Linked DNA regions of Homo sapiens: region 2 is linked to region 1. The links come from fine-mapping of genetic effects on gene expression. A gene starts in region 1. The other region holds a variant in brackets. All regions are shown on one strand. Distances are between the middles of the regions.

Region 1 (2,779 bases):
TGACATCTAGTTGAGTGACCATTGGGAAGCTGAGTGTAAACTGAGAGAGAAAGCCTTGAGCCAAAAATGGCTTAAGTCAAGCAAAGGGTGGAGAGGCAGGGGATGGTCGCAAAGGCCTGCATGTCTGGGTGGCAGGGGGAGTAGGCAGGACGTCAGGTGCTGTTGGGCGTGTTGACAAAGTCAGCAGGGGAAGTGCAAGGGGACGAGGAGGAAGGAGAGTTTACACTTCCTAATTTCTCCAACTAGCTTCTAGGGAAGGAATGTAATTTTGCTGTCTGAGGCACTGATTCCTTGCTCCCCCTAAAGGCAGAAATGGAAGTTATTTTTCCCCACAGAGGGCTTCCCCCTCCTCCTCAGAAGACTCAACTGCCCTTCCTCCCTGCCTCCCAGCTACCCAGGTTCCGGGTCCCACATCATTCCTCACTGTGATTCAGTGCAGCCCCCAATGGGAGCAACGTGCCCACCCTCCTCTGGGCAGAACCCTTTTCCTTGCATTCTGAGATCCAGTGAGGGGGGCAGTACCCCCAGAGGCCAGGTTGGGTTGTGGCTAGCTAACATTGGGGTCCCCAGCCTGACTCTCTTTGCCTTCCTAGAACCCTTGCCCAATACCCACAAACAAGGATTTCTCAGGTTGGGATCTCTGCGAGGCATCCATCCATGTCCAGGGTCTGGTCATTAGTTAATATCAGTGGACTGCCTAAACCGAAACTGGCAGAAGGTGGCCAGGGGAGGGGTCTGGACCCAGTGGAGAGAGTCAGGAGCCTGGGATTCTTATTTTGGTCCTGTTAGGATTTGCCCTGTGACCCTCCGGAAGTCCCTTGCTTCCCTGAGCCTGCTTCTTTATCTGTAACATGAGGGGATTGGACTGGATGCCTTATGGCTTAGCGCTGTGCTATGAAGAGGAAGAAGGAGGAAGGAAAAGGAGCGCAGAGCGGGTTACACTGCCAGGAGATCCTGGGAAGCTAGGTCACTTCCCTGAGCCTCAGCATCCTTATCTGCAAAATAGAAATTGCTAATAGACTAAAAGGCAATTCTGAAAGATGGATGAGAAAGGAATATAATGACTCAGGGTAGAGCCTGCAAAACAATATGGGATGAGAAGATGCAGGGACTGGTTTCATGGAGAGAGCAGGGTTTTAGGATTGGGGGAGGGTGCCAGGGCTACCGACTGCTTTGGGAGATCCCAGAGGGGGCATTCTGAAGTCCTGCAGAAGAGATGCTGTGCCGTGAGGGGTGAGGGGTCGCTGGAGGCCAGACCAGGGCTCCCAGGAGTCCTGCATTGAGAAGGGAGAGAGTGGACACAGGAAGGATGCGCCTCTGTCCAGTCCTGAGGCTGGGCGCACACACCAGGCCCTTCGAAAAGCTCACATTTTTTCCAGCTTTTCTCACCCAGTATCACTTCCTTTGTTAAGAGGAGGGGGTGGGGGAGGAGACGGAGGATGAGGAGGGAGGGGCTGGCGGGTGCCGCCGCCGCCCCCGCCCCCTCCCGGTGTGCGGAGCCCGATTGTCACTCAGCTCCTGCGCCGGGGGCGACAGAGCCGCAGGCGCCCGAGTCGAGTCCCAGCCAGCTACCATCCCTCTGGAGCTTACCGGCCGGCCTTGGCTTCCCCAGGAATCCCTGGAGCTAGCGGCTGCTGAAGGCGTCGAGGTGTGGGGGCACTTGGACAGAACAGTCAGGCAGCCGGGAGCTCTGCCAGCTTTGGTGACCTTGGGTAAGTCTGAGTCTCGGTTCACCCCTGGGGCTCCCCAATGGGGGTGCAGGAGAGGGTTGAAAGAAGAGACCGGAATGCCCCCTTGGGGCAGGCCATGGGCAAGGTTCCCCGACAGAGCTGGAACGGGACCAGAGGACTGCTAAGATCCAGGCACCAGACGGGTCTCAAGTGGGTGGGCGCAGGGCAGGTGCGGGCACGCTGGGGAATAGGGAGAAACGCCCCAGCCTTGTCCTGGGCTCCGTCCCCAGACCCACGTCTGCCACCCCAGTCCCAGGTGCGAAACAGGGGCGCTACCTCTTTAAAAGCGTCCGGGGCTGAGTCTCTGCCGTACCATGTGATTGCTTGAAAGGCCGGGCTGGGAGCGCTGCGGCGGGAGCCGGAGGACTATGAGCTGCCGCGCGTTGTCCAGAGCCCAGCCCAGCCCTACCGCGCGCGGCCCGGAGCTCTGTTCCCTGGAACTTTGGGCACTGCCTCTGGGACCCCTGCCGGCCAGCAGGCAGGATGGTGAGCTCCCTGCATCCTGTTCTGTGCACAGGGGTGGGCAGAGCCAGTCATGGGAGACCCCTCTGTGCGTGTGTCTGTGTGTGCGCGCGCGCTGGGAGCTGCCTCACACCTGATAAAAAAGCCAGTGGAGGAGTGAGCGCTGCTATTTTAAGTTGCTGAATGGAACCTCTGGGAATGATAAAGGGAAGGGACAAAGATTAGGCAGAGAAGGGTCCGGGTGCCCCTCCAGCCTGGGTAGGAGCTGCATGTGACAAGTGGGACACATCACAGGGTACCTGGAGTTCCAGGGCAGCCTGAGCTCCCTGCCCCTCCCAGACGGGTCTCCCCATCCCAGGCTTCCCTGACCACACAGGTGCTTGCCTCGTGCCCCTTGGTGCCCGTCTGCTGATGTGCCCAGCCTGTGCCCGCCATGCCGCCCTCCATCTCAGCTTTCCAGGCCGCCTACATCGGCATCGAGGTGCTCATCGCCCTGGTCTCTGTGCCCGGGAACGTGCTGGTGATCTGGGCGGTGAAGGTGAACCAGGCGCTGCGGGATGCCACCTTCTGCTTCATCGTGTCGCTGG
Region 2 (2,779 bases), 39 kb before region 1:
CACAGCAGGGAGCCAGGAGAATTCTGATGTCCTTTTGGGACAGGAAATGGAGGGAAGGAGGGAACATAGCTGGACAACAAAAGAACCCTAAGCATGTTGAGGGAGAGCAGTGAGGTCTTAATTCTGTTCTTGGCCTTACCAGCATGATAGAAAGTAGCAGCATAGGCCGGGCGTGGTGGCTCATGCCTGTAGTCCTAGCACTTTGGGAGGCCAAGGCGGGTGGATCACGAGGTCAGGAGTTCAAGACCAGCCTGGCCAAGATGGTGAAACCCTGTCTCTACTAAAAATACAAAAATTAGCCAGGCATGGTGGTGGGCACTGTAATCCCAGCTACTTGGGAGGCTGAGGCAGGGAATTACTTGAACTCAGGAGGAGGAGGTTGCAGTGAGCCGAGTTCGCACCACTGTACTCCAGTCTGGGTGACACAGCGAGACTCTGCCTCAAAAAAAAAAAAAAAAAAAAAAAAAAAAAGTAGCAGCATAGGTACTGTGTGGGTTCTAAACTTTGCTTTCCCCTGACCAGCTGGGCTGAAGAAGAGTCTCTATTTCTAACACATCCCCTGCCAAACAAAAAAGAAAAAAAAAGCCTCAGTTTACCCTCCAGTCCTATGAGCCCTGAGAAAAGAAGTCATGTTGAAGCCACTATAGGAACCCCCATATTTGCATCTTTTGTTATTCCAGGATCCAGTGTGACTTACCTCTAAATAATGTGTCTTCTTCCTCTAAAATGGAGGCAGAGCTGGCTTGCTCTATGGTGGTTTCCAGACCTTACTGTCTAGTTGGTGAGCATGGGTTGACATGTGAAAGCTGGATTACAAGACAAGGGAGAGCTATGTTGATTCTACAGCAAACATGGGGGCTTTAATCAATTGCAAACCAGTAGTTTCTTCAAAAGCGTTTTGGGAATTTTTGGGAAGCCAAAACTGCTGAAGACTGGTGCTCTGCAGAAGGCTTGGGGAGCATGCTGGGCCAGCTCTTGGAGAACTGGTAGGATTCAGATGAGGAGAGGGGAGCAGGGGAAGGGGACGTTGGGTAGGCTGTTTGTATGGAGCTTGGGGTTCAGGTAAGGGGGTGATTTGAGACAAACTTGCACAGAGGGGAGGAGGCCCAGCTGGGCAGGGAAGGACTTGAGAGCTGAGGCAAGGAGACCGCACAGAACAGTGTGATGGTCATCCAGGAATGAGATGATGAAGGTCTGAACAACCTCTTCAGAGGCAGGAGGATGGATTCGACTGGGAGAGGGTGCATGTTTCAGGCTAGCAAAGGATGGCGAGTATGCAAGCAATAGGGGAATGGCTGTATTAAATGATAGGGTACTTGGCACATGGATACACCTGGTAAATGTTATTCCCTTTTCTTGCTTTGTCTTCTCTTCTACTTCTGTGTGCCCTGCAGGGGACCACAGCAGC[A/G]GGAATGGAGGAGGGAAAACCTGGCTCCACCCCGAATGTGTTTATTCATTCATTCATTTTTTTTTCTATCAAGTACTGTGCATTCAGCACCTTGTGCCAGGTGCTGGGGTTACTAAGACATGCCCTCTCTGCCTTCAGCATGTTCACTGATGAGTAAGGAGAATGAGTACACAAAGTCATCTAACCAAGGTAGAAACAGCAGGCTAGAGAAAGTGCTGACGTAATCCAGAGAAGGAATTTATTAATTCACTCCTTCATCTGCTCAACACATATTTACTGAGAACCCACTCTGTGTCAGTTCCCTGGCTGGGACCTGACCTGGGGCAAGAGCAGTGCCTAGACTCGGCGCTTGCCTGCAGAAGCTCTGTTGGGCATGCATTTGGCCTTGTGTCTGGATGATGTTTGCCTCTGACCAAACATGAGGGCAGAGCCGGGAGGTTAGGGTGACCTTGTGTGCCTGGTTTCTGTGAATCCCTGTCTCTGTGTGTGTTTGTGTATGTCTGAGTACAGTGGTTTGGGGACCACGTCAAAGCCCGATGTGGGGCACAGACCCTCTTGGTCTGAGCTGATAGAGTGACCCAGGTGTCTTTGACCTGTCCATACCCTGATGGGGGGGATTGGCCCTGTACCCATCTTGTTCTTCTCTCAGAGCCGAGCTGTGGAGACGCCTCATCTAGAGGCTTGGTCCTCCTCCCCTTGTACACCCCTCCACCCCCACAAGCTGCCCTCTGATGGATGGGAACACATTGGTGCCAAGCACAGAACAGCCTTTGTGCTCCGCCACCAGCGGCAATCCATCAGCTCCAACCTGACAGCAGGGCGTCCGGCCCTAATCCCCATCCCTGCTGGCTTGGGCACACAGGGCCCCCTGCCCTGACTGTAGCCTCCTCCTCCAGCAGTCCTGCGCCCTCCAGAGGAAGCCCTTATCCCCTACTGGGGCTCCAGGGCCACATTGTTGGCTCCCCAACCCTGACTGTTTCAACTTGATTCTGTCTATTTGCACGCTGGGCTGATGTCATTTGCATGGTAGCGGCTGGATTTCAAAATGCTCAGAAATCCCCTTCACCTGCTCCCTGCTCCTTACTACCCCTTCTGCTGCACACCCAGTCACAGCCCTCTGGCCTTCAGCATCTTCTAGTCCCTGCTGATTTTGCAGGTGGGCTGACCTGGGCTGCCATGGTGCTTGGCTAAAATCAAAGCAATTTTTCCATTCTGGATTCTCATGTGCTTGGGAATAGAGGAGCAAGAAGGAGAAGGGTCTGGAAGGGTGGGGGCCTCTGGCTGCTCCAAACAGGTCTCACCATATATTTTCCTAGGCTGGGTCTCTGGGTATTATTGATGAGGATGAGGTCGGGGGTGGGGGGGGGTGGG

Evidence for each region. PIP is the estimated chance that this variant, and not a neighbour inherited with it, causes the effect. A credible set is the group of variants that fine-mapping cannot tell apart.
Region 2: its variant is the best candidate, but not a certain one, in a credible set for the expression of ADORA1 in whole blood (INTERVAL, PIP 0.65).

The regions. Positions count from the first base shown.
Region 1 is chr1:203,126,217-203,128,995 of GRCh38, forward strand. ADORA1 (adenosine A1 receptor) reads left to right here and starts at 1,510. Exons shown (of 4, transcript NM_000674.3): 1 at 1,510-1,712; 2 at 2,062-2,216; 3 at 2,569-2,779. The coding sequence starts at 2,626. RefSeq lists an enhancer at 1,234-2,214.
Region 2 is chr1:203,087,640-203,090,418 of GRCh38, forward strand. It overlaps MYOPARR (myogenin promoter associated myogenic regulatory antisense long non coding RNA), which reads left to right. Exons shown (of 3, transcript NR_160550.1): 3 at 1-701. Among named protein-coding and RNA genes, the nearest start is that of MYOG, 3.0 kb to the left of the region's middle. RefSeq lists an enhancer at 1-209. The variant A/G (reference allele first, on the strand shown) is at 1,409.